2 separate regions of the Homo sapiens genome follow, and region 2 is linked to region 1. Evidence: fine-mapped QTL for protein levels in blood plasma. A gene starts in region 1. The other region holds a variant in brackets. All regions are shown on one strand. Distances are from middle to middle.

Evidence for each region. PIP is the chance, under the fine-mapping model, that this variant and not a neighbour inherited with it causes the effect. Sun 2018 read protein levels with aptamers (SomaScan).
Region 2: its variant is fine-mapped to the plasma level of the ADAM23 protein (Sun 2018, PIP 0.95).

The regions. Positions count from the first base shown.
Region 1 is chr2:206,441,492-206,446,875 of GRCh38, reverse strand. It overlaps ADAM23 (ADAM metallopeptidase domain 23), which reads right to left and starts at 3,344. Exons shown (of 26, transcript NM_003812.4): 1 at 2,796-3,344; 2 at 1,352-1,569. The coding sequence starts at 3,009. RefSeq lists a silencer at 2,770-2,899.
Region 2 is chr2:206,531,583-206,536,966 of GRCh38, reverse strand. The region is part of intron 4 of ADAM23 (ADAM metallopeptidase domain 23); the gene reads right to left. Among named protein-coding and RNA genes, the nearest start is that of ADAM23, 91 kb to the right of the region's middle. The variant G/T (reference allele first, on the strand shown) is at 3,134.

The sequences.
Region 1 (5,384 bases):
CAACACCCATTTCTCCTATCAATAAGACAAATGAGTTAGACATGACCTATTAGTCACCCCATTAAGTTATATAGGAGCTTATGGAGAAAAGGGCTGGCTGAGAACAGAGACACATTTATCTCACGGTGGGTAGCAGCCACTTCAAAATAATGTGAAAGAAAGTTCACCTCTCCAGTAATATTCAAGGTGAAGAAAGCACTTTCTCAGAGACCTAACTTGTAAAAAATAGTAAAAATTAAACATTCAGGTCACCTGAATTTTATATTAGCTGCTTTACAACATAGGAAAATCACCCAAAAGCCTTAAATTTCTAGCTCCCCATTTGTAAAATGGGGATAAATACTGTTACCACTCACCTATATTTTAGAAAACTAATAAAAAACAATGATGTAAACTGCAGATACTTTCTTAAATTCTAGATGTTTAGACAGTTAATTGCTAACTGTTGTTCTCACCTGAACAAGTACAGATCAAAATGAAACATTTAACATACAGACTCTATTTTCTGCTCCCGATAAACAACAGAAGAACCGATAATCCATTGTTTAAATCTGCTCGGGGTTCAAAATAATATTAATTCAAGTAAAGAATAGTAACACAGGGAAAAAGATCCCTTAAACTCTTTGGATATTAAACATTTGTCTTCTACTGATACCTTGGTAAATATCAGTTCCACTTTCTGAACTAACCTGAAAGTAAAGCAACTGCTCATAATCAATGCAGAGTAGGTACTGAAGAATTATGCCAATCAAAATTGGTCTTCATATTATGCAAATAATTTGTGTCTAGTCACCATAATCTTTTTAAATGTCAAATTGTTTACCTATTGAAAATACAACAGAAAATTTTTTTTTCCTCCTACTGATCAATTAAAGAAACAGACTGTTTAAACACTCAATTTCTAAGTGGAAAGACTGATGGAGACACTGCAGCCAAATAGCTTCTTGAAGCAATCTTGCATGTGCAGATTGAAAGCAGTTTTTATATCATGGGAGACAGTTTTATATCAAGGCAGAATACTGCACCCTTACATAAAGCCTCACAGAAACAAGTTAGAATCATAAACACATTCACTTAACTACTGTTCAGTGCCCAATGTACCTGAAAGATACATGGATATCATTTCAGGTATCAGAAAATTCTAGTTCCAGTTTAGTCAGAGAAGAGAAACAACAGTCTTATCCCAGTAGATCCCAAGTTAATTCCTTCCAGTTTCTCCCCTATCATAATATTAATTGCTTTCTTAATAAAATGCTGCAGTAAAATTTGTGAACTCAGATTCTGGCAGAAAATCAAATCAAAGGAAAACTCTTCATGATAGTTACTTTTGCATAGCCAGCCTCCTGCCTACCTTATTATGTTTTTGCTGGTGTCTTGCCTTTGTGTCAAGAACGTGATAAGGGCTTTCCGAGTCTTGGTTGATGTAATATATGAGTCTTGAAGGCAGTGTGATTTCTTTCTGCATTGCATTGCTGTAACTGATATTACTGCTGCTATTCTGTTGCAATGTATTGTCTTCATCTGCCAGGACTCCCAAATTTTTTTCTGCAGTTTCATTCCAATGCGGAGCTGGTGGAGGTAGGGGGGTGGGGGAGCAGAAAATACAAACATACACAAACACACACATATTTACCCCATAAATACATAAGCACTAAAATGCATTTTTCCTTTAATTTCAAACACAAAGTTTTCTATTTATAAGCAGTTAAGAAGTAGAGCTAGAGTAAAGCAAGTTATTTCAACAATAAAATGGCCTGGAGAAGTTAATAAATAGCCAATAAGGCTTATACAACTGTGCACTATTTATTTTGATTTATGTCTTATATATACATTTCTAGTCAGACTCAAATCTATACTTCTAAGTGTTGGGGGGGGGGTAGAATGAACTTGAGGGAAGAAGAGTCATTAAATGAACATGTTCAGGGGTCCTGCCCCCGATCTCCACCCCTTCTCTGAGTCCACAGAAGCACAACTCTACTCTGCCTAGTGGCATCCCATCCAAGAGCTAAGAACGCTCCTAAGATAACTTGAGTACTGAATTTATGGATACCGAATATTAATCGACTCTTTTAACAAAATGGACAATTCCCTTCTCTTTTAACTTTAAGATGAGCAAACATACTTTGCCATGTAGGGATACAGATGCTGGCAGCTTCCCAATTTCTTTTTATTTTCCTGACAAAGCCAGCTTTCTGCTTTCAGTGACTTCCAATCATCAATATATAGAAGATGGTATTATATTAATTGTTCATTATAATGACAAGCACTTTGAGAAATCAGAACCAAAGGTCGTGCATGAAGTATGTCTTCAGCACCTTAATTCTTTGGTCCCCGAAGTGTGCCTCCCCCACCTTAATTCCAACCGCACTGAATGCGCCGGATACGAAATTTGAGGAAACAGCCCATTACCACTATTATCACTACATCCTCCCCGCATTCACATTAAGGTTCCACCACGCAAGTAGCAACTTGCTCCCTCGCTGTATTTCCCATCCACTGGTTGCCCCTCCGCAAGTTGCACAGAGATCGCTGAGGGACCCAGGATCCACTAAACACCTCCCAGTGGAACCAACAAGAATTGGAATGGGTTTTTCGCGAATGCAACAGAAATGGACTTCCAAAAGTGAACTGGGATGAATGGGGGTTTGGGAACGAGAAGGGTGGAAAGACAGGCAGGGAGGGAAGGAAAGGCCGAGCCGGGGACAAGCCCGGAGCACACGGACCCGCGCGCCCTTCGCTTTCCTCTGCAGGGCCCCGCGGGAAAGCCAACGCAAAGGGCACGGGGCCATACCCACCGCTGGGCGCAGCAGCCCCCCAGGCGCGGGGCCGGGACGAGGCGGCGAGCGGAGGCAGCAGGAGAAGGACGAGAAGCAGGCGGCAGGGCGGCGTGCGGGCCGGGGCGCTGGCAGGCACCGAGCCGGCGGGGCCGCGTTGGGGGCCGCAGGAAGCGCCGGCAAGGCTGCAGCCCGCCAGGGGCGGCTGCCGCGAGCTGCTGCCGGGCGGCTTCATGGCTCATAGCTCCCGGGCGCCGCTCCGTGTGGCCGGCGAGAGCGCCGGGCTAGCTGCGGGGCGGCCGCGGGCGGAGCCGGTCACGCCGGCTCGGCGCGCATGGTGCCGCGGCGGGCAGGGGGCTCCGGGCTCGGGGCACGGGGCGCGGGGCTCGGGGCTGGGCGGCGCCCCCTTTCCCGGCTCGCCTAGCCTCGCAGCCACTCCCGGGGCGGGACGCAGAGGAGTCCAGGGGTCCTCGCCGCTCCGCCAACTTGGAGCCTCCCCAGCGGCTACTCCCTCCCCCGGCGGGCGCGGCCGCTTCAGCGACTGCGGGGGCTGCCGCCGGGCCTGAGGATGCTGAGGCGGCGCGCGGGAGCGAGCGGCGCGGGGACGCGCGGGAGCGAGCGGCGCGGGGACGCGCGGAGCGGGCGTGCGCCCCGCCCCCCGAGAGCGCGCCCGAGCGGGGCTTCGGGTGCTGATGCTGTTGCTGGATGCTGTGCTGCTGCTGTTGCCTGGCCCGGAACGCACTGCGCATGCTTTGTTGGGGGGCGGGGAAGGGGGTAAAGCAGCAGAGTGATGCAGCAGCCCAAGCAGCATCGGAGGTGACGGGTGGTACCTCAAAAGATGGGGGCGGTGGAGGGGGAGCCGGCAGTCACGGATAAGCCAGAAGAAAGAGAGTACGGGGGTTTCCAGGCCAGAGACAGGGATGATCGGGAGAAAACAACCAGCCGAAGTCCACCTGCCTTTTCCACCACCCCAGACTTCACATACCCTCTCCTATTCCAACCTCTTCCTGCTCTGGATAAACTAAGGCCACGCATCTCCTTCTTAATCCCTTATATATTTGCTTCCTGCATGTAAATATAAAGGATTGCAGCCGGGGAGGTAAAAATAGCGCGGCTCCTCATTCAGATTGCCAGCAGCGGGTGGGACTGCGGCTGAGAAGAGCGTTTGCGCCGCAGGCTGGCGCGGAGTGGCAGGAATCCCCCGCGCAGGGGCGCTCTGCCCCGGCCTGTGTCCTCCCTGCCGGTGCCTGGGGTCTTTGAGGAAAGCACAAGAAGCCGGACGGTGTTTGCTCAAAAGTTCAGAAAGTATGACTGGGCATATTCGGGAAGGACTTCGACATTCTGGCGGGGAAGCAATACAGAGATTAGAAACCAAGTGTGTGGCAGCTATCTTGGGAAATCCGTTGTTTGTCAACCACGGGGATGGGCACACATTTAGGAGGACACATTTCTATTTTTGAGATCCAGTCCTGACTTCTGCAGAGGAAAGGGGAAGTTTTCTCTCGTTGCTGTAAAAAATGTAAATCCCTGACTTCGGTGGGTTCGCAGCCACTAAATCTGATGGCTTCAGATAAGAGTCTGTGGCATATTTCTGCCCCCAAACTCTCATAATGCAAGCATTCATTTATTCACCCTCCCAATGACAATCTGAGTGATAACAATGTTGTCTTACTCCGACATCCACGGGGTGAGGGCTGGGGTGGAGAATTCCATGATTAAAAGAAAGAATGTGGGTATAAAAGTGCCATGGCCATGACAGAACTCAGTGTTAGCCATCATCTTCTCCACTCACACTTAACAAAGAGAAAAGAAGAAGACATATACGCGCGCGCACACACACATTACAAAACTGTTAGGTAAATACTGAGATAACTTCCTTTCTATGTTGAGCTAGGATATTATTATCACATATTTATTCCTGTAAATTTGTAATTGTTGCTACCTCCCCCATGTGAGGGCAACAACAGTTTTCCCTTCTGCACACCATTGTGTCCCTAGGACCTCACACAGTGTCTGAGGCACAGAGAAATCGCTTGGAAAATATGTACTAAATGAATAAAGAAATGGGTGATACACACAAGCAGAAGTCACACTTGGGGCAGGCTAGTGAACACTCTAGCCCCACCGGAGTGCCCACTGCAGGTCAATGTTCTTAGGGTTGTCTCCCTCAAGTCAAGTATTCTCTGGCTAGGTTTTCCAAATTTATATTTGACACAATATGCATCCTGAAAAAGGGCCTGAGAGAAAGCAAGCCAGAAAGGAGATGTACAAGCAATGAGAAGGGAGAGGGAAATGAAAGGTGCAAAGCACCCAGATGCAAGTTACTTGAAAGGCATCTCTTGCAATTCAGTGACAACCTCTTAAAGTCTGTTCTGATAAATAAACCTATCAGCCAACCTGGACTGACCAAACCCACCCACCAGTTACAACACATCATTTCATGCACTTGGGGTATGGAATGAGGATTCAATATAGTTTCTTTTTTTCTTTTTTTTTTTTTTTTTTTGAGATGGTGTCTTGCTGTGTCACCCAGGCTGGAATGCAGTAGTGCGATCTCAGCTCACTGCAACCTCTGCCTCCCAGGTTCAAGCGATTCTCCTGCCTCAGCCT
Region 2 (5,384 bases), 90 kb before region 1:
TGGGAGGCTGAGGTGGGTGGATCACTTGAGGTCAGGAGTTCGAGACCAGCCTGGCCAACACGGTGACACCCCGTCTCTACTAAAAATACGAAAATTAGCCAAGCGTGGTGGCACGTGCCTGTAATCCCAGCTACTCGGGAGGCTGAGACAGGAGAATCTCTTGAACCCAGGAAATAGAGGTTGCAGTGAGCTAAGATTGCACCACTGCACTCCAGCCTGAACAACAGAGTGAGACACTGTCTCAAAAAAAAAAGTTGTGTATATCTAAAATATACAACATGATATTTTGATATACATAGTGAAATTATTACTATAGTCAATCAAATTAACATGTCTTATTTCTACCTCACAGTTACGTTTTAAGCGTGTGGCGTGACCACCTAAAATCTACTCTCTTAGCAAATTCCCATCATACAATATGACTGACCATAGCCCTTATGCTATCCATTCCATCTTTAGACTTAGAGCCTATATAACTGCAACTTTGTACCATCTGACCTACATCTCTCCAACCCACCACCCCACTCCCACCCCTCCACCTCCTGCCCCTGGTAACCACTGTTCTATAAGGTTGGTGCAAAAGTATTTGTGGTTTTTGACATTACTTTCAATGGCGAACACCGCAATTGCTTTTGCACCAACATAAATACATATTCGACTTTTTTAGATTCTACACATAAGTGAGGTCACAGAATATTTTTCTTTCTGTGTCTGGCTTATTTCAACACACACACACACACAAACACACACGCAATGGAATAGCATTCGGCCTTAAAGAAGGAGATCCTGGCATTTGCCAAATATGGGTAGACCTAAAGGACATTATGCTATACAGTAAAACCATATTTGTTTAATGAATGAACAGGAATGGCTTATTCATGAGCATATGTGACAAGACCAATCCTAAAGGATTCTTGTTTGATGAAGAGGGTGGGTAAATAAACTCTTATTCCCCACCTGGGTTTTTTATTGTTGTTGTTATTTAGATATAATTCAGAAATCATAAAGTTTACCTTTTTAAGTATAAAATTCAGTGTTTTTCTTCGCATATTCACAGAGTTGTATAACTATCCCCACTATGTAGTTCCAGAATAGTCTCATCACCTCAGAAAAAAGTCCTGTAACCATTAGCAATCAGTTTCCATTTCTCCTCCCCTCCACTCCACCAGGCCCTGGCAATCATGAACCTACTTTCAGTTCCTATGAATTTGCCTATTCTGGACATGTCAAATAAACAGAATCGTATCATATGTGCCCCTTCGTGTATGGCTTATTTTACTTAGCATAATGTTTACAAGATTTATCTTTTGGTGTAGTATGTATCAGTGCTTCATTTCTTTTATGACTGAATAGTAATTCCACTATGTGGATATGCCATATTTCCCTTATTCCTTCAACAATTGAAGGACATTTAGGGTGTTTCCACCTTTTGGCTACTATGAATAATGTTATGAACATTTATGTACAAGTTTCTTTGTGGACATATGTATTTAATTCACTTGAGTATATGCCTAGGAGTAGAACTGCTGGGTGATATGGTAACTCTTTGTTGAACTTTTTGAGGAACTGCCAAACTGTTCTGCCAAGCAGCCACACAACATTTTACATTCCCACAAGCTGTGTATGAGGGTTCCAATCTCTCCACAATCTCGACAGCACTTGTTATTGTCCATCATTTTCATTATAGCCATCCTCATAGGTATGAATTGGTGCCCACCCAAGTTTAAAACTAAATGAGAGAGTGACATAGAATTGAAACATCAAAATGTCACCTTCATTTATTATAGAGCTATACTGGAGGAGAGGATTAGTTGAGAATCTAATAGGCCTGCTAATGCTGCACCCAGGAGTAGCTAGCCTTACCCACCCAGGCAGAGACAATGTGGGACAACCTAACCCCAGCCACATACACACATGTGGGTGGCCACAGTACAATTCAGAGAAGAGAAAGGTGGAGAGAATGTACTCTTCTTGTAGGAAGGTAGATCCTACAAAAAAAAAAGAAAAAAAAAGGGAGGGAGGAACTGGCTGCACAGACATACTTTCCCAGCAGTCAAGCCGCTCTTCCTTCCCTGAGCAAGAATGAGCAACGGAATAGGAAGAAGCCAGGGTGAGGAAATAGACCTAGGAAAAGAAGCCTTCCCCACCTAATAATGATAGTAATAAGGTAGAGGGAAGTTGGGATGGAGGCACTTCATCTATTTATTCATCATGACTGCTGACGTAAGCAGAAGAGAAATCAAAGTATTAGTAAGCACTTACAAATATGTATTAGCAGCTCACCAAAAAAGACTTAATAGAAATATGTTAATTTTGAAAAGTACTTTCATAGTGTTTTGTTGATGCTTATTATTTTATAAGAACTGAAATGCTAAAAATTAACTTATTTAAATAGGCTCATCAGCAAAGTTGGTCAACAAATATATAGTACTTGAAACATGCTAAGAGGGTGGATCTTAAATGTTCTCACTACAAAAAAAAAAAAGATAACTATGTGAGGTGATGGGTGTGTTCATTAGCTTGAGTGTGGTGACCATTTCACAATGTACCAACATATCAACCTGATGTTTTGAATAATACATACAATTCCTATATATACAATTTAAGTTACATACCTTAAATATATGTAATTTCTATTTTTCAATTATATCTCATTAAAACTAGGGACGAAAAAGGAAACTAGTCACAAAGGCCCACCTATTATATTATTTCATTTATGTCCAGAATAGGCAAATCTATTGAGATAGAAAGTATTAATAGATTAGTGGTTACCTATGGTTGGTAAAAGAGAGACTGGGGAGCAACTGTTAACAGGTGGTGTGGTTTCTTTATGCAGTGATGAAAATATTCTAAAATTAGATTATGTTGATGGATGCACAATTCTGTAGATATACTAAAAACAATTATATGCTTTATGATACATAAGTTATATCCCAATAAATTTGTTTAAATAAGAAAAGTAAATAAATTACTTTTTAAAGTTGTAAAAAAATCAACAAAATAGTTTTATTATATATTATGTGCAAAGCACTGGTAGGAACTTAAACAAAAGCTATTGCTCCATCAAGTGCAGAACAAAAGTTCTTCCTTATTCTTGGACTGATACCTAGCATTCATATTACACGCTTCTTTT[G/T]GACCTCTCGAGCTCCTATATTTGCTTCACATGGAAAGAAGCACTTTTAACCCATGTCCATGCAATAAAAGTAAAAGCCAAGACATTAATCTTTTCTTAGTGAGAAGTAAGAATGAGAGAGGGGCTTGTTAGTGGTGAAATGGGAAAACCTAGACAACCCTCTTTGCAAAGTATGGTTGCAACTAATTCCTGGGATGCTGTCAATATCCACATTCACATTTAACTTCATAGCCAAATAGACTGTTCTTTAGTTACGTGGAAAATATTGTGTGTCTACATGTGTGTGTACAATGTGTGCATGTACTTTTCTCTAAACAATTTGAGATCTTTGAGCCGGGCACGGTGGCTCACGCCTATAATCCCAGCACTTTGGGAGGCTGAGGCGGGTGGATCACGAGGTCAGCAGTTCGAGACCAGCCTGACCAACATGGTGAAACCCCGTCTCTACTAAAAATACAAAAAAAATTATTTGGGCATGGTGGCAGGTGCCTGTAATCCCAGCGACTTGGGAGACTGAGGCAGGAGAATCGCTTGAAACCAGAAGGTGGAGGTTGCAGTGAGCCGAGATTGCACCACTGCACTCTAGCCTGGGCAGTAAAAGCAAAACTCCATCTCAAAAAAATAAAAATAAAAAAAACAATTTGAGATCTTTAGGGGAAAAAAGGCTGCATTATGTGAAAATAAGTTTAACCTAGCCATTCTTACATATTAATTTCCTTTTCTGGTACTCTGTACAAAGATTTTCTGAAGCAGCATAAAAGACAATCTTCATGAAGTTTATTTACAAATGCTTTAAAAATATATATATATATGTAATGGTGGTGGGAATATGAATTTATACAAACTTTCAGAAATAAAAATTGTTAATATATATGAAGAGTGTTAAAAAATTGTACCAACTCTTTGACCCAGAAAATTCCTTTCTCAGAATTAATTCTGAAGCAATTATAAGGGATGTATTCAAAACGTATCTGGAAGGCCTTCCCTTGAAGTTATTCGGATAGTGAAAGATTGGAAAGAGTCAAAATGTCTATCACCATGGCATTTTTAAACATATTATAACAAATGAATTAGAAATAATATTATGAAATTTTTAAAAATTAAAGGTTTAGAAGATTACTTAATATATGCTAAAATATTTAAAATTTTGCTACATTTAAAAAATCTTGATATAAAATAGTGTGCACCATATCATCTTGGGTTTTTCTGATGTACATAAATACAGACACATAAAAAACAGACTGTTAGTTCATTATCTATGAAGCACGTAAGTTTGGGTATATGAGCTGTTTGAAGAAAATGGGTCATGAAAGAGAGAAAAGCAGTGAACACAAAAACAAACTGCAGTGAACACAATTTCTTTTGCTAGAGTTGAAATACCTTTTAAGTTTTAGTTACAACTGATATCAGATTTGGAGTGTCTTATTAATGATAAGGTCTCCTTTTGGGACCTCAAATGACCTCTGGAGGCCAATTAGCTATTCTGTTTCTTTAAAAAAAAAAAAAAAGTAACTAAGTGCCTTAGTGAGAAGTCTGGATCAGGTTTCTGTGTCCTGCAAATGTGGCTCGTTTGCTGAGTCTATAAAGTTCCCTGCAATCTTGTCTACTCCAGGCTCATGATTCAGCATCTGCAGTGCTCAGGGCCCTGGCACAGCTGACAGAAGCTTCAGTTTGTACAAATGCCAGGAAGCTTGTTCCCGCGCTTGATTTAGCTTTTCTGCTCACTTTCCACAGCACTAACTTTTAGGGAGACTCAACAACCCCCAAATGCAACCTAAGGCAAGAACTGACAACTAATAAGAATGATACATGAAAGTTCTTAATCTGTGGCACAAAACTCAAAGGCTGGAAAACACGTCCAATTACAAATTGAAATGTTATAAATCCTGAGACATGCCAGGGCCTCCTGAGCAGTATTTATAATGAAGGACACCTATAAACATTTGCTGAGAAGCCATCAGATTGAAAATCCCAGTTACCTATATGGCACAAGTCCACATACGGGAAAGGTGCTACTTTTATGCTGACATGTGTTAGCAATCTAGGAAAAAGACAAACAAAAATCCAGTGAGGTTTCCCCACTTTGTTTCCTTTCTGGTGTCCCCAGTAACTGGGACACTGCTCAGGTTCAGTGGCACTTGTTGATTCCCTAGAAGTCAGAGTTTCTTTCTGTAGCCATTCTGGGGATCTTCACCCTGACTGACGGAGGTCACTGTTTCTTACATACAAATCATCTCTCTCTCTCTCTTGC